7 linked regions of the Homo sapiens genome follow. The protein of the gene in region 4 purifies or fractionates together with the protein of the main gene of each other region. This does not show direct contact. Each region holds a gene or a part of one and is shown on either strand. Other genes may lie near its edges. The genes, in order: HNRNPM, HNRNPH1, DDX17, FUS, ZC3H18, HNRNPR and SF3B3.

The links.
Region 1: the proteins of FUS (region 4) and HNRNPM purify together in Homo sapiens (affinity purification with mass spectrometry; 4 studies listed by BioGRID and IntAct, with this or other methods). This does not show direct contact.
Region 2: the proteins of FUS (region 4) and HNRNPH1 purify together in Homo sapiens (affinity purification with mass spectrometry; 4 studies listed by BioGRID and IntAct, with this or other methods). This does not show direct contact.
Region 3: the proteins of FUS (region 4) and DDX17 purify together in Homo sapiens (affinity purification with mass spectrometry; 5 studies listed by BioGRID and IntAct, with this or other methods). This does not show direct contact.
Region 5: the proteins of FUS (region 4) and ZC3H18 purify together in Homo sapiens (affinity purification with mass spectrometry; 3 studies listed by BioGRID and IntAct, with this or other methods). This does not show direct contact.
Region 6: the proteins of FUS (region 4) and HNRNPR purify together in Homo sapiens (affinity purification with mass spectrometry; 4 studies listed by BioGRID and IntAct, with this or other methods). This does not show direct contact.
Region 7: the proteins of FUS (region 4) and SF3B3 purify together in Homo sapiens (affinity purification with mass spectrometry; 3 studies listed by BioGRID and IntAct, with this or other methods). This does not show direct contact.

The regions. Positions count from the first base shown.
Region 1 is NC_000019.10:8,451,475-8,454,974, reverse strand, and holds part of HNRNPM (heterogeneous nuclear ribonucleoprotein M), read right to left. Parts: intron 1-3,500. UniProt on the Homo sapiens protein: Pre-mRNA binding protein in vivo, binds avidly to poly(G) and poly(U) RNA homopolymers in vitro. Involved in splicing.
Region 2 is NC_000005.10:179,617,175-179,620,671, forward strand, and holds part of HNRNPH1 (heterogeneous nuclear ribonucleoprotein H), read right to left. Parts: intron 2,234-3,497; coding exon 2,095-2,233; intron 1,150-2,094; coding exon 971-1,149; intron 887-970; coding exon 815-886; intron 759-814; coding exon 625-758; intron 476-624; coding exon 340-475; intron 1-339. UniProt on the Homo sapiens protein: This protein is a component of the heterogeneous nuclear ribonucleoprotein (hnRNP) complexes which provide the substrate for the processing events that pre-mRNAs undergo before becoming functional, translatable mRNAs in the cytoplasm.
Region 3 is NC_000022.11:38,489,312-38,492,811, reverse strand, and holds part of DDX17 (probable ATP-dependent RNA helicase DDX17 isoform 1 precursor), read left to right. Parts: intron 1-696; coding exon 697-756; intron 757-3,500. UniProt on the Homo sapiens protein: As an RNA helicase, unwinds RNA and alters RNA structures through ATP binding and hydrolysis.
Region 4 is NC_000016.10:31,183,139-31,186,638, forward strand, and holds part of FUS (RNA-binding protein FUS), read left to right. Parts: intron 1-719; coding exon 720-864; intron 865-1,070; coding exon 1,071-1,258; intron 1,259-1,800; coding exon 1,801-2,041; intron 2,042-3,500. UniProt on the Homo sapiens protein: DNA/RNA-binding protein that plays a role in various cellular processes such as transcription regulation, RNA splicing, RNA transport, DNA repair and damage response. Binds to ssRNA containing the consensus sequence 5'-AGGUAA-3'.
Region 5 is NC_000016.10:88,573,403-88,576,902, reverse strand, and holds part of ZC3H18 (zinc finger CCCH domain-containing protein 18), read right to left. Parts: intron 1-3,500.
Region 6 is NC_000001.11:23,320,285-23,323,784, forward strand, and holds part of HNRNPR (heterogeneous nuclear ribonucleoprotein R), read right to left. Parts: intron 3,449-3,500; coding exon 3,272-3,448; intron 1,380-3,271; coding exon 1,244-1,379; intron 1-1,243. UniProt on the Homo sapiens protein: Component of ribonucleosomes, which are complexes of at least 20 other different heterogeneous nuclear ribonucleoproteins (hnRNP). hnRNP play an important role in processing of precursor mRNA in the nucleus.
Region 7 is NC_000016.10:70,558,316-70,561,815, forward strand, and holds part of SF3B3 (splicing factor 3B subunit 3), read left to right. Parts: intron 1-2,153; coding exon 2,154-2,276; intron 2,277-3,314; coding exon 3,315-3,469; intron 3,470-3,500. UniProt on the Homo sapiens protein: Component of the 17S U2 SnRNP complex of the spliceosome, a large ribonucleoprotein complex that removes introns from transcribed pre-mRNAs.

The sequences.
Region 1 (3,500 bases), on a different chromosome or scaffold from region 4:
GACTAATGTTGGTTTTGAATTAAGACATTCAAACTCAAGGCTCCACAGGGCAGAAAGCATTCCCAAGGAAAGGTACACCTTCCTGGGCTCACAAAATACTCCTACGGACAGTAACAGAGACAATGGTGAGGCCAACTCCCTGACCAAGGTGTGTTAATTCCAAGACAGAAACAGGAGAAGAGAGGGATGATTTCTAAGACTTCATAGAATGGAAATATGAGGTAGTACACATAGGCCCATCCAATTTTAGCTTCACAAATAAGTGTCTTTCATAGTGTTAAAAAAAAAAAGGGGGGGGGGGCATAAAATGATGCAGCCGCCATGGAAAAGTTAGGTAGTCACTCAAAATTAAACACAGAATTACTATGACCCAGCAATTCCACTGCTAGGTATACACCCAAAAGAATTAAAAGCAGGGACTCATACACATATGCCAATGTTCATAGCAGCACTACTCACACAAGCCAAAAGGTAGAAACAACCAAGTGTCTACCAATAGATGAATGGAATAAACAAAACACGGACTATCCATGCAATGGGATATTATTCAGCCACAAAAAGGAAGGAAATCCTGACAAAGGCTACAACATGCATGAACCTTGAGGGCATTATGCTCAGTGAAATAAGCCAGTCACTGAAGGCCAAATATTGTATGATTCCACTTATTAAATACCTATAATAAGCAAATCCATACACAGAAAGTAGAACAGAGGTTACCTGGGCCTAGGGGGAGGTAGAAATGGGAAGTTATTAAATACTGAGCATAGAATTTCATGTGGGATGAGAATAAAAGTTCCAGGAATGTGCAGATTGCTGCAAAACATCATACTTCACTGCACACTTAAGATGGTTAAAATGGTCTATTTTATGTATATTTTAACCACTTTTTAAAAATCCAGAAAGGTGGAAAAGAAACCACTCCCTACACAATCCTACTACTTTGAAGCTGGGAAACTTGGGTCTGAGCAACCCTGGGAGGTGGAAGACAGCATGCAGACAATCCCACCTTTGGCAAAGAAGGGTGGCTGCTTTTCTGGCACGGCCTTCCCATTGCACTCTTTACCTTTGTGTGCTAGGTGCCACCACACTGTTAACACTAACCATCTCTAGGTAGCAGCCATCAGGCTTGGAAGCCCGGGCACTGGCTGACAGGGCGCTTTCCTCAGCTGCCAGCTCAAGCGCAACCCCTCTGACTACAGGGAGGCACAGATTAGAGCTGATCAGGAACAAGTGAGGAGCCAGAAGCCACCTCAAGTTTCTTAAGCAACTGAGCCTTGCACCTTCTGCTTCCCCAGCCCTGTGTGTCCCGCCAGTGAGAATCCAGTGACTCCCAGACCACGGGCTCTACTACAGAATTTGTAATCCATGACAAAACCGGAAAAAAAACCAAAAAGCCAAGACTACAGTATTAATGATTTATAAAAGTATCTTTAACTGAAGAGCCGATCTTTATTCTGGGATGTAACTTTCTTCCGTGGAAGAAACACCAGATAGTAGCTGGAGAAGCTACTATTTTAAAATGTTATTTAGTTGAGGCCAGGTGTGGTAACTCCCATCTGTAATCCCAGCACTTTGGGAGGCTCAGGCAGGTGTATCACTTGAGGTCAGGAGTTCAAGACCAGCCTGGCCAACATGCTGAAACTCCATCTCTACTAAAAATACAAAAATTAGCTGGGCGTGGTGGCACATGCCTGCAATCCCACCTCTCAGGAGGCTGAGGCAGGAGAATCGCTTGAACCCGGGGGGCGGAGGTTGCAGTGAGCTGAGACCGCACCACTGCACTCCAGCCTGAGTGACATAATGAGACTCTGTCTCCAAACAAACAAACAAAAGTATTCACTTGAGACCAGGTATGGTGGCTCACACCTATAATCCCAGCACTTTGGGAGGTCAAGGCAGGAGAATCTTACTTAAACCCAAGAGTTCGACAAATAAGACCCTGTCTTTATTTTTAAAAATAATAATAATTATCTGAGTGTGGTGTTGTGCACCTGTAGTCCCAGCTACTCAGGAGGCTGAGCTGAGAGGATGGCTCCAGTCCAGGAGGTCAAGATTGCAGTGAACTATGATTGCACCACTGCACTCCAGCCTGGTTGACAAAGCAAGACCCTGTCTCAAAAATAGTAACGTATTTACTTGGAAAAATTTTAAAGTCAGCAACTTTGTGTAGTCCCCAAACACAAGAGTGCCAAGTGGTATCCCAGCAGAGGTATCACTGGTGTGAGCCACACCCAAATCAACACAAGGTAAAACCAAGGAAAGCAGCTTCCTCTGTGATCTCTCAACTATACCAATACACAATCAACAGGCTTCCCTTCCCACGGGCTGGCAGATAAGGTGATGTTATGGCAGCTCCAATCCCTAGATGCCTAGAACGCAATCTACCTGAGTCCACAAGACTGGCTTCACACCACAAAGCAGGTCCCACAGGAGACCTACAACTGTTACCCAGGCCACTTGTCTACTCCAAAAGAAAGTCCTTCACCAAAGTCTGCCAAACAAAATCTATCTGCCAAATCATCTCCTACTCTTTCCTGGAAAATGACGACGACTGTGTTAGAAAAAATCATAAAACATAACAGAATCTACACATCATGGTCCACCAGAGGATTCACAGATGGAAATGAATTTTAATATTGTTACTTTTGAAGTCCCAAATACTTTAAGATTTACAATAAAAAACATTCTGACAGAGTCCATGATGAATTATTTCCAGTCTTTCACCAGACTGCTTAAGCTCACCTATAAACTACGAAATGTATAAATAAATAATTACAGCCAAAGCAGGTAACAAAGTGTCTAACCTATATTCCACAGGTGCATACCATGGCTACGAATAAACTATCCAATCTAACCACAGAAGCTGAGCATTTGGTTTGGGGTTAATCCACATCACATGACTCACCATTGAGAAAGCGGCTCTCACCATGCTTAATGGGCACAGCACCTCTGCAAACAAATCCTTCCCTGGCTAATCATTCCCTCTGAGAGGTTTCCTCAGTAAAGAGATTAGAACTATCTCTTGTCATTTCCAACTTTTAAAAAATTGACCTTTTTGGAAATCTACCACCACCAACTAATTCTTGACAGACTTGTAGAGAATGACCCTCAAAGAAATATCATTCGAGACACATATTCAAGCAGACTGGCCATGGTGGCTCATGCCTGCAGTCCCAGCAGTTTGGGAGGCTGAGGTGAGCTGAGTGCTTGAATCCAGGAGTCTTGAGACCAGCCTGGGTAACATGGCAAAACCGTGTCCCTACAAAAAAAATACAAAAAATTAGCCAGGTATGTTGGTGCACAACTGCGGTCCCAGCTATGCAGAAAGAAGACAGTCTGGCTCCAGGAGGTCAAGGGTACAGTAAGCCATGATTGCACCACTACACTCCAGCCGGGGGTAACAGCGGGAGACCCTGTCTCGGCAAGGGAAGGGGAAGGGGAAGGGGAGGGACATATTCAAGTTTAGATGATGTGATAGTATAAAAGTGATGTCCTGAAAA
Region 2 (3,497 bases), on a different chromosome or scaffold from region 4:
ATAAAGTTTTTAAACAAGCAGATCTGTGAACTTCAAATACTTTGGCAAAGAAATTCTAGCTACTTCTCTTAGGTGATCTACTTTAACTCCAAAATCTAGCCTTTACATATTCATCTGTATTGTCAATTAAGGATATACACTTCAAGATGTGCATATCACAAATCCGTTATACTAATTTTTAAAACCCAAACCTTCAACACACTGCCCCCGCATCCCCCAAGAATTAATCTATTACTGGAGAGGAAACTTCTCATATATCCTTATTTTTCCATTTCTCTATTGTAAATGTTAGTCACACAATCACCTGTTAAGAGCCCACAAATGCTCAATCACACTTACGCATATTTGCTTTGTCTTTTGACATAGCTGCCACAGCATCTTCATGAGTTGCGAACTCGACATCTGCTTCACCAGTTACTCTGCCATCAGGACCAATTTCAATGTGTACTCTCACAGGGTTGAGCGGTGAAAAAAACTACAACACAAGGCATTTCAAAGAATTCAACCAACTTTCTAACGTTACAAAAAAAACCTAAAATTTCTAACATAGTGCTCACATTTATAGAATAAGGCTGACTTACTGCCATACTGAAATATTGACTTGTGAGTTCATCTCACACTTACATTATAAATGTCATTCTCAGTAGCTCTGTAAGGTAATCCCCGCATGTGTACACAGTGTCCTGTTGTGCTCTGGAAAGTAGAGCCACCATCCCCGTATCTGTGATCAGACATTCCTGAAAAACAGTAATTGAGGTCTAGATGGACAAGAGTGTAAGCATCCTTCAACTGAGAAATTCAATTCTTACCTTACCTCTTCCAAATCTATCTGACCCAAATCCATAGCCATCATTATAGCCATTGTAATCATCATAGCCTCCATAGCCTGAAAGACAAAGTACAATCAATCAAATAAAACACCTAGACAAAGGAACAGACGACTTGCCGAACCTTACGAATCCTCACGTACCTCCACCATAAGCACCACGCCTCATCCTCTCAAAGCCAGCTCCTCTGCCAATGCTGTTATACCCTCTACCAGCCCCAGGTCTGTCATAAGGACCTGGCCGCTGCATGGCCATAAGCTTTCGTGGTGGATCATAATGAGTTCTAACTTCAGCTCTACTGCTCTTAAAGATTTCAATATACCTAAAGCATTGTTCATAAGGAAGGGGTAGGGAGGGGAGAGAAAACATTAGTTCATTTTATACAGGTATTTAGTTATACAAGAAAACAATCTAGTCATAGCCATGAAACTGACTAATATTTAAAGCCAGATTTCTTATATTTGCATAGGCAATGACCAGAAATTCACTCAATAAATAGTAAGACAATGTAAACTTTATAGAAAAAAAAAAAAAACTCACTCCTCTGAGGCAGAGCCCAACCTTAGGGGTAGAGAGGAGTACTGTAAATAAATGTTTTAGGAGGGAAATAATTCCACTCAACTTTCAACATTTCAAGTCTTAAATCCATTGGCAGCATGTATAGCAAGTGGGCTAAAAAGCCAGCCTCCACCAACAGTCCAGCCCACACTACACATTTCCTTTCGCCAATAAATACCCCAGCCTATGCTTTTAGTAAGAATCAGCATAGGTAAGCGCATGCTTCAATGAAAAATAGTCACAAGCAAAGAGAATAAAACCTTTTGTGACAATTTCTTGAAAGCTATGCTTATTAATACTATGCAGAATATTTATATACAGCAAGAAAAAGTTTGTTGCATTTCAACTTTAAAAACAAGATCAGAAAGTATCACATTTTCTTATGGTAATATTAATTTATTCTAGGTGGGTGTTATTACAGCTAAAGCCAGGTTTGCATTAATTTTTTAAAGCCATAGTCTCTCAACTCTATTGATTGGGGTTAATAAGACTCACAAAATTGTCAAGCAGACCAATTAACTAGGGACAAATTTCAAACCTAAAATTTAGTTTGCGTGTAACGTGGGACTGACACAAGTTTGGAAATCATGGCAAAACATCAATTACCTAGGACTACAAAACATTAATTTCTTCTTTTAAGCAGAGAGAATATGGATTTAATTGTTTACCATAAGAAAAGTGACATATCCAACCAACCATCCATCCCCACCTGTGCCCTATTCTTTCCTTGTGTTTCTTTAGAGCCTTTTCAGCTATTTCCTGTGAAGCAAACTGCACGAAGGCCTCCCCCGTACTCCTCCCCTGGAAGTCCACCGGCAATGTTATCCCATTTGGCACGATTTCCAACCCTTCAACCCAAGGACAAATAACCCCAGTAGGGGGGCAATATTAACATCACAAGCCCAGAAATGATTCTTCTTATAGCTTTAAATAAACCAGAATTTTTAACTTTAGGTGAATGGTATGCTTTCAACAAGTACTCTTTAAATATGCATTGCAATAATATGAAGTTCCATTATTATAAAGTATAACTATTCTTAACACACCCATGGTACAGTATATATTAAAAAAAACTTGCTGAACACAGGATGCATTAAGAATTCAACAACTTAAGAACACATATCTATGCAACTTAATGTTGAGAATTATACAATTCAATTAAGTTTTAAGCATTAAATAACAGTTTTACTAAATTCAAAACACCTTTTACCTCATTTTATATTTCAATGCTTTAAGTTATTGGAACTTCAAGTTTTTAAAAAGGTATACATTTACAACATTTCATATAAAAACTGAAACATTAAATTATAATTGACAAACACAACAATCTAAACTTTCAACAAAACTGATCTACACAGCACAATCATGCATGCTTATGCTCTAACAGTAGTTATGATTCACTTCTGGAAATTCCGTCTATGAAAAATCCTTTCCGTGGATACATTCCCAAGCTTACAAAAAGGACTTAAAGCACTTTCCTAGAAGATATGAAATTATGTTCATATTTAACGTTGACAGCATTCAATTCTCACCAATTTAGTGTCAAAACAAAACAGACTTGATTTTAAAAATTCTGACATTAGGACTCGATACATATATCAATTTTTAACATACTACACTAAACCATGAAAGGATTTCCTGCTTCCAGCGTATCACATCATAAATATTAATACTTAAAATATACGATATCTTATCTAACATTGTTAAACATGCAATCTTATCAGCTCTTCAGCATAAAAACATTCAAATACTTTAGGCCCAGGAACAATTTCAAAACACTTATTTCAGATACTGAGACTACAAGCATTCAAACTACTCTCACTACATCTGATTTTCAGTAAGTTTATACCACACAGGTTAAACCAAGTCTTTCATAAACCGACTTTTGCATTAAAGAGAATTAGACCATTAGATGCTTCTGGTCACATGACCCAAATACGTGTCTCTTGCAACACAGACACTTGCCATAATTTACAACAACCTAATTCATCGCACTGATGATCTGCTGGTAAAGGGATCTTACCTTTAACTTGAGGTACTTAGCTGGACACCAATGTGAGGAAAGTAGTTAAGCTGTTGAGGGCAATCCTCAATGAAAGATCTACTCTGAAC
Region 3 (3,500 bases), on a different chromosome or scaffold from region 4:
CATATTTTGTTTAAGAAATAAAATGTGGCCGGACACAGTGGCTCACGCCTGTAATCCCAGCACTTTGGGAGGCTGAGGTGGGCGGATCACCTGAGGTTGGGAGTTCGAGACCAGCCTGACCAACATGGAGAAACCCCGTCTCTACTAAAAATACAAAATTAGCCGGGCATGGTGGCATATGCCTGTAATCCCAGCTATTTGGGAGACTGAGGCAGGAGAATCGCTTGAACCCGGGAGGTGGAGGTTGCGGTGAGCTGAGATTGCGCCACTGCACTCCAGCCTCGGCAATAAGAGCGAAACTCCATCTCAAAAAAAAGAAAGAAAAATAAATAATATGCATACCTTTTGGGGGGAAATTCAGTTCTTTTCATTCTACATCTTTTGAACTTGTTTCCTACTGACCCCCAACTTTTGGTTGTGTCTCATTTGGGAAATAACTTTAAGGGGAAAAAAATCTAGCTCATATTAATTATGTAACAAATTGCCACACTCTCTTAACGGTATTTCATTATTAGTAGAGGTAACTATTGTGCTGCTGAATATGAGTGTAATAAAGATTTTCAAAAGAATCACTGTCAGTCATTACAAGAGCTTGGGATTTTCTGGCACCATTATTTGAAATTTTAACATGGTTATGTAAACAGATCAGATAGCAAGGAATGCTTATTTGATGATGATTATTGTTTGTTTTTACAGAGTTCCGTTCTGGAAAGGCACCCATCCTTATTGCTACAGATGTAGCCTCCCGTGGGCTAGGTTTGTATAGATAGGTGTCTCTGTCAATGGTATATGTATCTTTTGGTTTAAAGATTCGTCATTTCAAATTCAGACTTCAAGTTTAGAAAGTTGTATATACATGTGGTTAGATAAATATTTGAAAGAAAAAAATACAAAGCGTGATTCTCCCCATTCCCTGCCCCCCCCACAATTTTTTTTAACTTTGGTTTCCCCCACCCCCCTTTTATTTTCAAAGTCTCTTCCTGCTCCTAACAAACAGGCTTTGGTCTGCAGCAAGGCCTAGGCATGACTATTCAAACAGAGGGAGAGGAGACAGACAGCTGAATGGCTCAGCTTCTCTCTGGTGGTGGTTTCTGGCTGGATAGAATAAGCCTGACGAAACCTAGCTATTGTAAGCTAGTTTCTTCAGTTATTCTTTTCCCTATCCCTGTCTAAGCTAGATATATACAGAGAGGTCCAGTTTTATGAATGCTTATTAGATGGAATTTTATAAGTCTAATGCAGTATCAGAATAGCAAATATGTGTATTGCCCAGTTTAATTTACTGAGGTCAAATTATCATGGGCACTTGGCTATCCCCTCCTACCCATGCACTTATCTGTAGGTGTGTTATCAACTGATGATTTTCTGGAGTTTTTGACCCATTACCATTTAAGATATACAGAGAATTTTATGGTAGTTTAGCCCACTATTCTGAGCTAAACAGGTCTAACTCAGAACTTCTATATTTTAAAAAAAAAGATTATTTGTATTACAAGGAAATCCTTAAATTATTGACAGGTATTTAATTTGCCCAGTAAGGTGAGAAGTACCATATTATTCCCTTATACTATATAATATAAAGAGAACAGGTATTCAAACTGGAATACAAAAGTAATGAAGCCTTTTTATGCATTGCACTCATCATTCCCTCCTTCAGAGGTGGTGACCTGCAGCCATGATGGAAAGTTCTCTCTGCCCCTCTGCCCTCTGAGGTCATGTCTGGATCTGTGCCATTAGAACTTGGGCCTGTTGGGAGAGGAGGCGGAGGCCTGAAAGCAGTTTACATAAAGCTTTCAGTAATGGTTGGTTTTTAAACAGGCTTGCTATGTGCTGGTAGCTTCTTTGTGCATCTTGCCTAGACAATTAAAAATATTTGCTCCATGTCCCCTTGCATTTCTAAACCAAATTAATTGGCTACCATTAGAATAACTTAGACTCTTCATCCCACCCCCACTCATCCAAGTGAGGGGAGAGGGAAGGTACCCGAGTCTGTTTCTTGTTACTCAACATCAGTGCTTGTTTTGGGCCCCTTTGTTTGCTGCCTTGTAAAAAATCAAAAGAGGGAGAAAACCCACCAAAATGGCAGAATTCTGACCAATGTCCTACAAGATCCTGGAAAGTGAAGGCTTCTACCTCATAGACAGGGGTGCAATTTTCAGCTGAGTCACCAGGGCCTTTTTTCACTTCCTGTCAAGCGATGGTCTCTTAAATGTTCCCTTCAGGTAAGTTCTTTGATTCCCATAATTTTATAATAGTCATCCTTAGGCTACCACTTCCCTTTCCACTGGGATATTTTTTATTTTTCCTTTTTTTTGTTTGAACTACACACTGTTAAACTAAAAGTATTGAATTTATTTTGTTTTGTTTTTTAACAGAAGCTTTGATATCAGCTGCAGATCACTCAATACATGGCCGAGACAAATCTACATTGGCCGGAAGCAGCTCTAGATGAGCCTCTTGGCTAGACTTAGTCCCTCCTTATTAGTGATTGGCGATTCAGGCCATGTCATAGGGCCTTTCAGACAAAAGGTTCTTATCCCAGTCAGCTGGCCAAAACATTAACTTTGGATTTCTTACCCTGCTACAGCATCTTCTAGAAAGGCAGCAAGATAATATTGTGGCAGTGCACAGATAACATCAGGGTAGACTTGACTGGAGAAAACCAAATTCTGCGCTTGCTCCTGTGTGCCCCCATCCAGCTGTGCATGCACACACAGGACACCTTTCTAGTATGAAGAACTTGCATCATGTCTGCCCTCTATTGAGCACCCCCTTCTAGAAATACTTCCAAGTATTAGCATGTGAACTGTTGACTCCACCCTGGTGCTTTCTGCTAGGAAAGCACACTTAACGCATCCAGTGTAGTAATTGAACTTGTTCTACTGCCATGGTCATATGCAGTGGGATTGCATAAGGAGCATTATCCTAGCTCTGAAGATACCATGGAGTAGAATTCCCCACCCCCTGTCTTACATCCACCCTGGCCCTGTAAATTCTTTTTTCCTTTGTTGCGTCAACGACCCTAGCCGGAGACTCAAGCTGCCCCCTGTGATAAGTGCCTTCTCGTCTTTCTGGTGTGATTCAGGACTTTAGGGGTCAGTAAAGACCGAGGAGCCTTTATTGTAATAAGAAACAGACATAATGCCCCTTCTTCACAAGCCCTGTAACAACAGCTAATTTTTTTTTTTTAATCTCCCCTTTCTCCCTTGAAATTAATCCAGTCTGGGCAATAGATGCAGTCTGACCCTTTGGATGTAACTTACATTTTTTTTTATTAATTATTTTTTTCTACAATCACCCCAATTATCCTTGGGGGAGGCGTTGGAGGACCTGAAATTTTTACCCGAACCCAGGTTCTCCGGCGCTTGGCAACCAAATGGGGCTACAGAGAAGCATCTAAGCCAGTTCACAGAGCGAGCGTGTGTGGGGACTTCTCACTGCCACGGACCCTTGATGCATGCTCCCCGCGCTCCAGTGGTCCCGTGTCAGAAGGCGGAGTT
Region 4 (3,500 bases):
TAGTCCCAGCTACTGAGGAGGCTGAGGCGGGAGGATCCCTTGAATTCAGGAGTTTGGGGCTGCAGTGAGCTATGATGGTGCCTGTGAACAGCCACTGCATTCCAGCCTGGGCAGTGTGTTGAGGCCCCATCTCAAAAACATAAAAAAAAAAACAAAAAACAAAAATGTTTATTGGTTTGTGATTCTGTTTCCATTTATTTTCTTTGGCTTTTAATTTTTTTGACTCTTCTTATTTTCCATCAGCATGAAAGAGAGCATATTTTCTAAAGGAAGAACCAGTTTTAGGCCAATTCTGAAATGGAGAAAATGGTTTTGTTTGAAAATGTATGAAATCATGTGATACATAAGGAGGTGGGATTTGCCCCAAGGTCCTGAAGTGTAACTAAGAAAGGTGGTTGTCCTGTAGATACTGCACGCACAGCTGCATATTACAGTGCTGTTAACAGGGATCCTTGGGCCTGGGTTTAGAGGGTGGTGCTGGAGATGGTGTTGGGATTGGCGGGGTGAAATTGGAACTGTACTAAAGAGTTGGTAGAAGTTGAAGCATTAAATTTAGGCTTTGAAAGGAGGGTAACTATCTTTGCCTATGAGTTGCAACATCACTAACAGCTTCTGAGAGGCTGGCTTTATGAGTATAGGTATTATGTTTTCTTTAACCCATTCCTTACATTTTCTCTTTCCTGGTGGCTTTTGTGACTCCCTTTTTCTTATCCTGGTAGCAGGCTATGGAACTCAGTCAACTCCCCAGGGATATGGCTCGACTGGCGGCTATGGCAGTAGCCAGAGCTCCCAATCGTCTTACGGGCAGCAGTCCTCCTACCCTGGCTATGGCCAGCAGCCAGCTCCCAGCAGCACCTCGGGAAGGTACGGTGGTGTTGATGTCGGGGAAGGCTTGAAAAGAGGGGTGAATTGATGAGGAATGATAAAGGGACCAGCAGTAGGAGCAGTTCAGAGGTGTAATTGGGGTAGGGGAGCCTGTGTTGGGTACAGAGAATGGACTCCACTAAAAGTGAAAGGAAATTGGGGGCTATGCTGGGATTGTGATTGTGTTTTTTGTTTGTTTTCCCTAGTTACGGTAGCAGTTCTCAGAGCAGCAGCTATGGGCAGCCCCAGAGTGGGAGCTACAGCCAGCAGCCTAGCTATGGTGGACAGCAGCAAAGCTATGGACAGCAGCAAAGCTATAATCCCCCTCAGGGCTATGGACAGCAGAACCAGTACAACAGCAGCAGTGGTGGTGGAGGTGGAGGTGGAGGTGGAGGTGAGATGTCTTCAGCTTTGTCTGCAGCCCATTTTCTTTTTCTTTTTTTTTTTTTTTTTGAGACGGAGTCTTGCTCTGTCTCTGTTGCTGAGGCTGGAGTGCAGTGGCACAATCTCGGCTCACTGCAAGCTCCGCCTTCCGGGTTCGCGCCAGTCTCCTGCCTCAGCCTCCCGAGTAGCTGGGACTACAGGCATCCGCCACCACGCCCGGCTAATTTTTTGTATTTTTAGTAGAGACGGGGTTTCACCATGTTAGCCAGGATGGTTTCGATCTCCTGACCTTGTGATCCGCCCGCCTTGGCCTCCCAAAGTGCTGGGATTACAGGCGTGAGCCACTGTGCCTGGTGTCTGCAGCCCATTTTCTATAAGGATTTGTATTCTCCTGTTTTAGCTTAAAAGAGGGTTCCTGTCTTGTTTCCTAGCTGTCTTTTTACTTTCTTTTGTCCTTCATTGCCTGGCACTTGTCAAACCTTTTCAAACCTTTTAGTGCTACTTTACAATCTTTTTGTTTTTTTTTTTTAATCATTCTTTCTTTTCTCACAGGTAACTATGGCCAAGATCAATCCTCCATGAGTAGTGGTGGTGGCAGTGGTGGCGGTTATGGCAATCAAGACCAGAGTGGTGGAGGTGGCAGCGGTGGCTATGGACAGCAGGACCGTGGAGGCCGCGGCAGGGGTGGCAGTGGTGGCGGCGGCGGCGGCGGCGGTGGTGGTTACAACCGCAGCAGTGGTGGCTATGAACCCAGAGGTCGTGGAGGTGGCCGTGGAGGCAGAGGTGGCATGGGGTAGGTGTCTCATGAGCCAGGGAGTATCTTTGGTGGGGAGTGTGGAGGATTGCATGAATCTCCCTGAAGCCAGTCCCTAGTGCATGGTTTAGTATTCTTGTTGTCTAGGGATCTGTGAGGGCTTTGATTTGGGGGCAGTGACTTTCTTTTTACATCCCCATTTTATTTTTGTGAGAACTTGGGAGCCTGAACTCCCATCCATACCACTGAATAGAGATTTTGAGTAATGATACTTGTTTCCAAAAAAAAAGAAACCATACATAGATACGTATGGATTGGAGTCATTAATATCCTAGGCAAGAAACATGGAAGTGAAGACTTCTTTCTCTGCAAGGGAAACCGATGATCCCACTCCTGGGAAATAGTAGGGAAACTTGGTATGTGTATTCCCATGTGTCCTCTAGGGAGTTGGTAATGGTTAACCTGACTTCAGCTTCCAGGAATTGGCTACTCTTCCCGTTTTCTATAGTCATTTGAATCCACGAGCTTGATTTGCACTAATTTGACCGACATTGATTTTGTGTGTGACTTGGTTTATGGGGCCAGCTGACTGAAGTAAGCAGACCTTTTGGGCAAAAATATGCTTTGACAGTGGTCTCCCACCTATTTGTTCCACTGTCTGCCTTCCCCTGGTTACTTAAAATTCATCAGCTTGTCCAACTGGACCTTCTTTCCTTCCTGCTGAAGTTGATTTGAAGTAAAACCTTAGATTTGATGTTAAAACAGTTGTCAAATCTGTTGGTAAATAAGATTTGAAGGACCCTACTCTGTCTCCCTTGAAAAAGGGGAGGAATGTCAGTGTTACTGTTTTTGGAAAAAGTAGATTTTTAAACCGAGTTTGGAAATGGTAAGTATGCAGAGGTGGGTGGGGGCAATCTCAAAAACGTGCAAAAATGAGGAAAACAAAAATGAGGAAATGTGTGCGTGTGTTTAATGCAAAACTTTAAAAAGAAAAACAACTGTTATGTGACTGTTAACTTGCTCTGCATTTTATGTGCCACAGGTATGAAAGGTGACATTGCAAAATACTCCGCTCTTCTCGCAGTGTAGAAGGGGTGACCCCGGGGGTTGGGGGAGATCAAAAACAGCTCAGTAGTTAGGACAGAGCTTAGCTAAGTTTGTCTTGCTTTAAGGGGAAGTTGCCTTTGGTTTTGACTTTTTATGGAATGGGGTTGGGTCTGCTTGCTGCTTTCAAAGCAAAAACCACAAAAATGTGTTCAAGGCTACCCCAGCCTGGTGTGAAATGTCTTCTGGGTAAATTGGGGTAGGGTTTTTAAACCAACTACTTGGTTGTCAACCACTTGCGACAAGAGGAAAAAAAAACATCTGCTCCATCGGAAGAACGACCAAGGAAAATGGGTTATTTTTTTTCCAGAGGAAATAGATAACGTAACCTTTTAAAGCAAAATCTTTATAAACTGTGTCTGAGAAATTGCACACGTGTGTGTGACATGCTCAA
Region 5 (3,500 bases), about 57 Mb from region 4:
GCCTCCCGTTTTTGGCAATCTGGCAAAATGAGATGTGGCAGAAGGAGACGCAGCCTGGCCTAGCCCTTCCCCGCTCAAGGGCAGCCCACACGAGTTAACAGAAAGTGAGTAACGATACGGATCGCAAAGGACAGCTGTGTGAATTCTTAGAGGAGTATTTACTTTTGAAATTAAAGATAAACTGTATCATGGAACGAGGAAGCAAAACTGCAGGCCCAGATCTCACCATTTTTCTGGAGTCATCCTGAAGCAGGAACCTGGGCCAGCCTTCGGCAGTGTCCAAGTCTGGAGCCTTTTCTGTTACTGAACACACTTCTCGAAGGCCAGCCTCTGAGGGCCTCCGAGAATCCCTTGGCTGCCCTTTAGCAATGCAGGCTCAGAGCCCTGCCTGCGTGTTCACTGGCCCCTCCAGCAGGTGTCGAGAGGGCTGTGTTCACCCGCTCAGCAACTCACACTCCTAAGTTGAGAACCCCTCTTCCCATACAGGTAGCTGCTGTCGAAAAGAACTCTGGCAGGAAACTTGACACACTTAAGTACCGCGCGTATGTAAAAGACGAGGCTGGCCAGGTACGGTGGCTCGCATCTACAATCTCAGCACTTTGGGAGGTTGCAACGGGAGGATCATTTGAGCCCAGCAGTTCGAGACCAGCCTGGGCAACATGGTGAGACCCTGTCTCTGTAAAAAAAAAATACTAAAATTCAGGCCAGGCGCGGTGGCTCACACCTGTAATCCCAGCACTTTGGGAGGCCCGAGGCAGGTGGATCATGAGGTCAGGAGATCGAGACCATCCTGGCTAACACGGTGAAACCCCGTCTCTATGAAAAATACAAAAACTTAGCTGCACGTGGTGGCAGGCGCCTGTAGTCCCAGCTATTCAGGAGGCTGAGGCAGGAGAAAGGCGTGAACCCAGGAGGTAGAGCTTGCAGTGAGCTGAGATCGCGCCACCGCACTCCAGCCTGGGCGACAGAGTGAGACTCCGTCTCAAAACAAAAACAAAAACAAACAAACAAACAAAAACTAAGTCACAGAGTGTGGTGGTGCGTGCCTATATTCCCAGCTACTTGGGAGTCTGACGCAGGAGGATCGCTTAAGCCCAGGAGGTGGAGGCTGCAGTAAGCCAAGACTGCATCAATGTGCTTCAGCCTGGGCAACAGAGTGAGACCAATCTCCAAAAAAAACTCAAAAAACAAAAAAAGACGGGGTCACTTCAGACTTCATTCCTATTTTTACTAATCCAGATTAAATTATAAAGTTAATATTTTCGAGTTTCCCTCCTCAAAAACTCATAGAAAGTACACTGCTACCCATGCTTTAAAAGTGGACGGTGTTAAGACGGGTAGGAAGGTGTAGAACGGCAACACCTGCCTGGCAAACACTTGCCACACCACCACTACCAGGGCAGCTAGTCACCACCAAGTGAGTGTGGAGCAGCAGGGACAGTGCCAGGTCAGCGGTCACTTGACTGTTCAGTCTGTGAGGCTGTTAAAATAACGTATGTCACGGTCACACTGCTCGGCATCTCGGCAAGGTCTGGAAACAGATTATTCATCTCAAGATAACTACGGACGCAGCAAGTCATACACATACACATTTATATGTCTTGTATCTCAAATAACCATACACACTAAAGATAAAAATATTCATCTTTTAAATTTATACTTTTAATACAACCTGTTTAAAGATGCACAGTATCAAGAATTGGTATCAACCTACAGTTAAACATTTTTTTTTTTTGCTGTTAATGGAAATCATTAAGATTAAGTACACATTAGAGGCCGGGCACGGTGGCTCACGCCTGTAATCCCAGCACTTTGGGAGGCCGAGGCGGGTGGATCACGAGGTCAGGAGATCGAGACCATCCTGGCTAACACGGTGAAACCCCGTCTCTACTAAATATACAAAAAATTAGTCGGGTGTGGTGGCGGGTGCCTGTGTTCCCAGCTACTCGGGAGGCTGAGGCAGGAGAATGGCGTGAACCCAGGGGGCGGGGCTTGGAGTGAGCCGAGATCGCGCCATTGCACTCCAGCCTGGGCGACAGAGCGAGACTCCGTCTCAAAAAAAAAAAAAAAAGATACATTAGAACAAATTGGTCAGGTGCGGTGGTTCATGCCTGTAATCCCAGCACTTTGGGAGGCTGAGGTGGGCGGATCACTTGAGTCCAGGAGTTCTAGACCAGCTTGGGCAACATAGCAAAACCCCATCTCTACCAAAAAAAAAAAAAAAAAAAAAAAAAATTAGCTGGGTGTGGTAGGGCACCTGTCGTCCCAGCTACTTGGGAGGCTGAGATAGGAGGATCACCTGATCCTAGGAGGTTGAGGCTGCAGTTCAGCCTGGGTGACAGAGTGAGACCCTGACTCAAACAAAAAACAAAAAAGCCAAAAAAACCCAAATCTGGCCAGGCGTGGTGGCTCGCGTCTGTAATCCTAGCACTTTGGGAGGCCAAGGCAGGTGGATCATCCGAAGTCAGGAGTTCAAGACCAGCCTGGCCAACATGGTGAAACCCGGTCTCTACTAAAATACAAAAATTAGCTGGGCATGATAGCAGGTGCCTGTTATCCAAGCTACTTGGGAGGCTGAGACGAGAGAATCGCTTGAACCTGGGAGACAGTGGTTGCAGTGAGCCGAGATCACACCACTGCACTCCAGCCTAGGTGGTGGCTAAGCGAGACTCCGTCTCAAAAGAAAATTCAAATCATTTAAAATTCATCACTTTATAAAAACTAAATGGGCCAAGGGTGGTGGCTCACGCCTGTAATCCCAGCACTTTGGAAGACTGACGCGGGTGGATCACCTGAGGTCAGGAGTTCAGGACAAGCCCGGTCAAAATGGTGAAACCTTGTCTCTACTAAATATACAAAACATTAGCTGGGCATGGTGGTGGGCATCTGTAATCCCAGCTGCTCGGGAGGCTGAGGCAGGAGAATTGCTTGAACTCGGGGGGGCGGAGGTTGCAGTGAGCCAAGATTGTGTCATTGCTCTCCAGCATGGGCAAAAAGAGCAAAACTCCGTCTCAAAAAAAAAAACCTAAATGGTTAGCAATAACATAGATTTACAAACCAACCAATCCATTCCAAGTCACTTAAAAGCAGACAGTTCTGAAAATGATTCACTTTTTGGTTTTCTAAGTACACTATTCGGTTACTATCCAGAGACAGGACTACTGGGAGGAATTATTAAAAAGTCAGTCCTAAGCCAGGAGTGGTGGCATGTACCTGGAATCCCGGCTACTTGTGTGGTTGAGGTGGGAGAATCACTCGAGCCCAAGAGTTCGAGTCCAGCCTAGATAACATGGTAAGACCCTCGTCTTTTTATTAAAGGTAGTCCTAAACTGGTATACACTGCTGAAAATGGGAAAGTCAAGGAGCTGATCCCCAAACAGTATCACAGGGGCGCTTGATGCACAGAGCATTTCTGCAGCCCAAGGCAACAAAAGCAAGGATGAAAAGCACCAAGGCTGCTAAGGCCTCTACGCACTGACTGTTCAAGACTGGGAGTCTGC
Region 6 (3,500 bases), on a different chromosome or scaffold from region 4:
CAATATAGCGGGTGGTAGCAGTGGTTACAAAGTGGGACGCTAGAAATCAAGAGTTCAGAGTGCATAGAATTTCTGGTGACTAGATCCAGAATGTAATCTGGATATGGTGGAGCTGAAGTAAAGGACTAAAGATGAGGTAGACATAGAAGTAGGTAGGAGTCTAAAGCCCTGGATGGTTCACCAATGTAGATGTTAAAGGTATTAGAAAGAAGCCAATTTAGGGCAGAAGAGGAAGACAGTGAGCCAGAAGCAATCTTTAGATTAATGAAAGGCTGAAACCACAAGAGCAACGAATGACAGCTTCAACAAAAGGGAAAGGATATGTCTGGATGATAAAAATGTAAAGAAACAGTGGTTTTTACAAGGGGAGGCAGCGGTCTAACGCAGTGTTTTTAAATCATAGGTAGTATTAGATCACAATTGGCATTTTAAAAAATGAAATAGAATAAGAAATATCAAAATAAATCATGTATAATAAATAAAAGTACAGTTTTGTTAAATTGTTTCAGTTATATATAAATGTGTATAGAACTGTGATATAAAATCTACTTCTCAATCAATTCCATGGATTTAGAATTGGATATTTAAAAAAATCTGATCAGCCAGGCACTGTGGCTCACGCCTGTAATCCCAGCACTTTGGGAGGCCGAGGCGGGAGGATCACCAGAGGTCGGGAGTTCTAGACTAGCCTGACCAACATAGAGAAACCCCGTCTCTACTAAAAATACAAAATTAGCCAGGCGTGGTGGCACATGCTAGTCCCAGCTACTCGGGAGGCTGAGGCAGGAGAATTGCTTGAACCAAGGAGGCGGAGGTTGCAGTGAGCCGAGATCGTACCATTGCACTCCAGCCTAGGCAACAAGAGCGAAACTCCGTCTCAAAAAAAAAAAAAATCTGATCTAGACAAGGCAGCAGGGAGAGAGTAAAAACTTTCATCCTCTTGGTCCTAAAATACACTAATTGTCAAGGGGAAAAAAAGCATTCACTTGAGGGCTATAGAGCAAAAGCTCCAGCAAAAGCCAAGGTTCAATTAAGACAAAGAAGTGAAGGGGACATTCCAAGAAATGAAGGATATAAGGGAACTTGCTTAAACCCAAACCACTATAAAGCAGAAAGGAAGCAATTTAGATACTTCAGACCTGAATTCTTAATTTAATACATACAACCCCTCAGTTTTTTTGAGCACTTGTAAGTAGTACAACATATTTCGCAAAAGTAATTTCTAAATACATTTTTGTTTTACCTGTGACTTTACTGAATTCTTCCAAAATGTTTTCTTTAGTCTTATTCTTCGGAATGGATCCAACAAAAAGTCTGTTGTTTGCCACAGAAATGCACACTCCAAGGTGTTTACCAGGGCGAATTTCATAGCTGTCACACTGCAATAAGAAAAGAACCAGAGACCCCAAAACCACCCCAAACTCAGGACAATTGATCTTAATCTAAAAAATTCAACAATTTAAGGCCAAACGCTCCCTGCTTCATCAACTCACCAAGTTCCCTCATGCTTTCCATAATATGAATGTATATTTTAAACTTCATTGTTACAGTCTCTTGTTTTAGTTTGGTTTTGTTAACCTTCACTACTCTTCCATATAAAAAGGACTCACTTTATTGTTTAAAATATCTTATTTCATATTTTAATTTTATCTATCTGAAAATGTTTTTCCACAGATTTTTCAGAAAAAAATACCTGAGACTGATCATTCAGGGTCCTTGGAAATGTAATTGCATATAGGTAAGCCATACTCAAAATAACAATATGTAAAGGGTAACAACTATGTTTAATCAATGCAAAGATATTAGAAAAATTTCAAATTCTACAGAAGTCACAGAATTCTAAATATATAGTTTTAAATTGTCTACCAAACACAATACTTTCAAAATTTTATAAAATTTTGAAAAATGTTTTATTTAAATCACTATAGTGGATTTTCTTGATAAATTGTAGCCCTTTTTTTTTTTTCTTAAGATGGAGTCTCGCTCTGTCATCCAAGCTGGAGGGCAGTAGCATGATCTTTGCTCACTGCAACCTCCACCTCCTGGGTTGAAGTGATTCTCCTGCCTCAGCCTCCCAAGTAGCTGGGACTACAGGCGTGCGCCACCACGCCCAGCTAATTTTTGTATTTTTAGTAAAGACAGGGTTTCACCACGTTGGCCAGGCTGATCTTGAACTCCTGACCTCAGGTGATCTGCCTGCCTCAGCCTCCCAAAGTGCTGGGATTACAGGCGTGAGCCACCACACCTGGCCAATTTTAGCTTCTTATACTTTAATATTATTTAACCATTAGTTTACTAAGAGATATGATTATTAAAAATAAAATCATCCATATGCTGCCAAAAATGAAAACTTAATATTAAATAAACAAGTTTGAAGAAAAAATCCATAATAAAAACTAAAATCTGGGTCAAGCTAGGAGTGGAACTAATTCAGACACCAGTAATGAAACCAAAGCCTTGATGAAAGAAGTTGACCATTCTACAAAGGCTAGAACTAGACTTAGTGAGGTCCTCAGAAGTCAGGCAAGGGTATGCCAAAAAATAATTACATTGTTATTTTAAGATACTGAGATAGCTGTGTCTTAAATACAGCAGGAGTGAAGATACATTTGATTTGCAGAACTTTGTTGCTACTACTACTGGTCTGAAATGAGCACCAAGTGGTTAAAGGCCCTAGAGAAAGGAAATTAATATGAGACTGGCTATAAATAGTAGGAGAGGAGAGAAAGATTAAAGACAGAGAAGACTCAAGGGCCAAGAAACATACAGGAAGAACAAAAATACACTTAGAAAATATGAAATAAATCGTATGAGTAGGCTGTAACCAAAATAAAACAGATTCACAACTATTTTCTGAATTGAATCCTAAGTCACTGTCATCCACTATTATGTTCCCCACAGCCCATTCCAGTCTTCATTATACTTTAAGAATCCTAAAGTTTAACATCAAGAATTGACATCCTTTTGCCTAAAACCAAAAGACAGAAATGCATAAGCCAAATACTCATATGAAACTTCTGATATCAATCTAATAGATAACTTCTTAAATCAATGGGAGACTTTCTATAAAACATTACTTTTTGGGTATTTTCAGTTCTTTTTTACTTTTATAGTCAGAGAAAAATAAACGTCACATACCAACTTGGTCAGTATAAAAACATTCCAAGCAACAACTGAAGAAATCAAAATAATGTTAACTACAAACATTTTTGAATTAAAGTTTATTTCCTCAAATAGTGACTTGCTAAGACAGTGGATAATTATCACATACCAGTTTCACGGCTTCCTGTGCAGCTTCCTTTCCACAGAAGGTGATAAATGCATACCCTCTATTCTGACCGGACAGTGGATCCATCATAAGACGTAGATCCCAAATGGGTCCGGCCTTCTCAAAAAGGGGCACCAACTCATCCTCATATAAATCCCTTGGTATTTTGCCTACAAATACCTGAAATAAAACCCCCTTATTAGAATCCAACATAAGCATTTGATTTTAGAGC
Region 7 (3,500 bases), about 39 Mb from region 4:
GTGTTGCTCAGACTGGTCTTGAACTCCTGGCCTCAAGTGGTCCTCCTACATTGGCCTCCAAAAGTGCTGGTGGGAATGCAGGCATGAACCACCGTGCCTGGCCAGTTTTAATGTTTTATTAACTCTGTATATCTGAAATCATTCTAACATGTAGTTAATATAAAAATTGCTGAGCTATTTCACCTTTTTTTCTCTCTTTTTTAAACCAAGTCTGAAATCTGGTATTGGCACTTTACACTTAGCAGTCTTAGTTCTCTTTAAAATTTTATTTGTCTTTATTTAAAAAAAATTTCTTCCTTGACACAGAGTCTTGCTCTGTTGCCCAGGCTGGAGTGCAGTGGTGTGATCTCAGCTCACTGCAGCCTCTGCCTCCTGGGTTCAAGCGATTCTCATGCCTCAGCCTCCTGAGTAGCTGGGTTTATGGTGTGCACCACTACGCCCGGCTAATTTTTCTTGTTTCTAGTAGAGATGGGGTTTTGCCATGTTGCTCAGGCTGGTCTTGAACTCCTGAGCTCAAGCGATCCACCCGCCTTGGCCTCCCAAAGGGCTGGGATTACAGGTGTGAGACACCATGCCTGGTCCTGTCTCAGTTCTGACTAGCCACATGTGGCTTGGGGTAGCTATAGTATCGGATATTGCAGAAGAAGAAGTTGGTTAGATTCAGATTTAATTATTGGGGGAGGGGGACAGGAATACTTAATAGGTGGTGCTGTTTACTCCTGTTGCATCACGTCAGGAGGAGTGTAGTGTCTGGTTGTCCCACTCACAGTGATGTTGGGATGTTTGTCTGTATCTGTGTTAAAGTTCCCGTCAACCCTTTACTTACAGCTATTACACACATTGCCTAGGTTCATTCTTTCATTAGTGGTTGGAAAATGATTTATTTCTTTTTGGATTTAATTAGTTGGAATTCTAAAGACAAAATTCGCATCATTTCTTTGCTTACTATAAGTACGGTTCATACAGGAAAAGGATAAATAATTTTTTTCCCATTGTTCACCTGTTTTCAGAGTAAGGAGTGAGGGCCACAGCACTCCTTTCAGTGGGGCCCAGTAAAGTGGGTTTTTTGCTGTTTTTTAGAGTAACATTGGTCAGGTGCTGTGGCTCACACCTGTAATCCCAGCGCTTTGCGAGGCTGAGGTGGGTGGATTGCTTGAGCTCAGGAGTTCGAGACTAGCCTGGGCAACATGGCGAAACCTCATTTCCACCAAAAATACAAAAAATAGTTGGGAATGGTGGCTCATGCCTGTAGTCCCAGCTACTTGGGAAGCTGAAGTGGGAGGATTGCTTGAGCCTGGGAGGTGGAGGCTGCAGTGAGCCAAGATTGTGGCACTGTACTCCAGCCTGGGTGACAGAGTGAGAACCTGTCTCAATAAATAAATAAATAAAAATTTAAAAAAATAGAGTAACATCATAAACTTGTGGATTTTTATACATTTGTGCTGAAAACTCCTTTTTTTTTTTTTAAACAGAGACAGAGTCTCGCTATGTTGGCCAGGTTGGTCTTTAGCTCTTGGCCTCAAGCAGTCGTCCTTCCTTGGCTTCCACAGTGCTGTGATTACAGATGTGAGCCACCTCACCTGGCTTCTTTTTTTTTGAGGGGTGCGGGGGGGTGGTAAATTGACTCATTCTAGAAAAGTGGGAATTTCTATTTGAAGTTAGTTCTTTTGTCCTTTTAACATGACCCCACTATTTGTAGGGGTTTCCTTGCCTTGTTGCACAATAAAGTATCCCCACATGTGTCTGGAACATTCTTGCCCCTGCCCCAAACTAGTCATTCCTTTTAGGAACCTTGTTCCTTTAAGAGGAAATGCTGTTTAGGGACCATGGTCTTTGTGGTTATTTAATTATTTATTTGAAATATACAGTAGTGAAGAAGGATTTAATATACTTGGTAAAAAGAAATATTAAGAAGATATAGTGAAAAATAAGTGTGTATTTACTTAGTAGATGCTCCATAACTTTGGATGATTAAGTGATTTACTGAGAGAATGAAATGAATGGCTATCGGATTATTAGGATCTTTTTTAAACACCCAAGTCATTTCTTTCTATCTGCTCTAATTTCTTATGTGAAGTACCCAAGGGAGAGGTTTTCCCATCATAGCTGATAAGCTTCCATCAGGCTTCACCTGCTCCTCTCCTTTTGATTAGAACGGTGTGCTGCTGAGGACTGTCTTGGACCCTGTCACTGGGGATTTGTCTGATACTCGCACTCGGTACCTGGGGTCCCGTCCTGTGAAGCTCTTCCGAGTCCGAATGCAAGGCCAGGAGGCAGTAAGTAATGAAGGTTGGGGACAGGCAACATCTTTGGGATTTTAGTGGCACCATCTGAGAACAATCTTTGCTGTAAGCTTCACTGTCACTAATTTGCCACTCCATCTTGATTGGTTTCCTTCATGTGAGAAGTCCTGAGTTTTCCTAACCTAGAGCTTCCTCACTGGGGCTCCATCGCACCATGTCATGATTTGGTTATAGCTGGGTAGAGATATCGATCCCTTTAGCCCTCTGGCTGGTCAAATAGGGCTGGAAACCTCCCCTCTAGGACACCACTAGCCATGAGAATTCTCAGGTTTTATCCCAGTCTTAGATCAGTGTCACGTTTACTACCTAATGTGAAAGAGACTGGGAAACATTGTGTCCTTTGTAGTTAAGAATGTTAGTGTTTCTGGGCACTGTGCTAATTGATTCCATTTAATTCTGTTTTTTGTTGTTTTTTTTTTTGAGATGGAGTCTCACTCTGTCGCCCAGGCTGGAATGTAGTGGTGCAAGCTTGGCTCACTGCAACCTCCGCCTCCTGGGTTCAACCAATTGTCTTTCCTCAGCCTCCCGATTAGCTGGGATTACAGGCGCATGCCACCACGCCCAGCTAATTTTTGTATTTTTAGTAGAGATGAGGTTTCACTATGTTGGCCAGGTTGGCCTCGAACTCCTGACTTCAGGTGATCCGCCTGCCGTGGCCTCCCAAAGTGCTGGGATTACAGGCATGAGCCACCGCACCTGGCCTTCATTCCATTTAATTCTTGCAGCTGTCCAGCCTTGTGGTACTGTTTTCATTTTACACACGTGGAAGCAGGCTTAGAGAGATGAAATGGTGAGTCTAGATCATATGGCTCGTAGCCCATGCTTTTCACATATGCTAAGCCATAGTGCCTCTCTCTAGCCCTCTTTTTCTTAAGATAGCCTGTTATATTTCTAGAATATCTTAGGATACTCTGCAGACTGAAATTTGGGGATAGGGCTTTTGGTCAGCTTATACCATATTTGTATTTTTTCCCAAACCTTATTGGAGCTGGGTTTTTTTTTTCCCCTCAGGTATTGGCCATGTCAAGCCGCTCATGGTTGAGCTATTCTTACCAATCTCGCTTCCATCTCACCCCACTGTCTTACGAGACACTGGAATTTGCATCGGGTTTTGCCTCGGAACAGTGTCCCGAGGGCATTGTGGCCATCTCCACCAACACCCTACGGTGAGTGAGTCTCATGTTTGAAGCTCAGCAG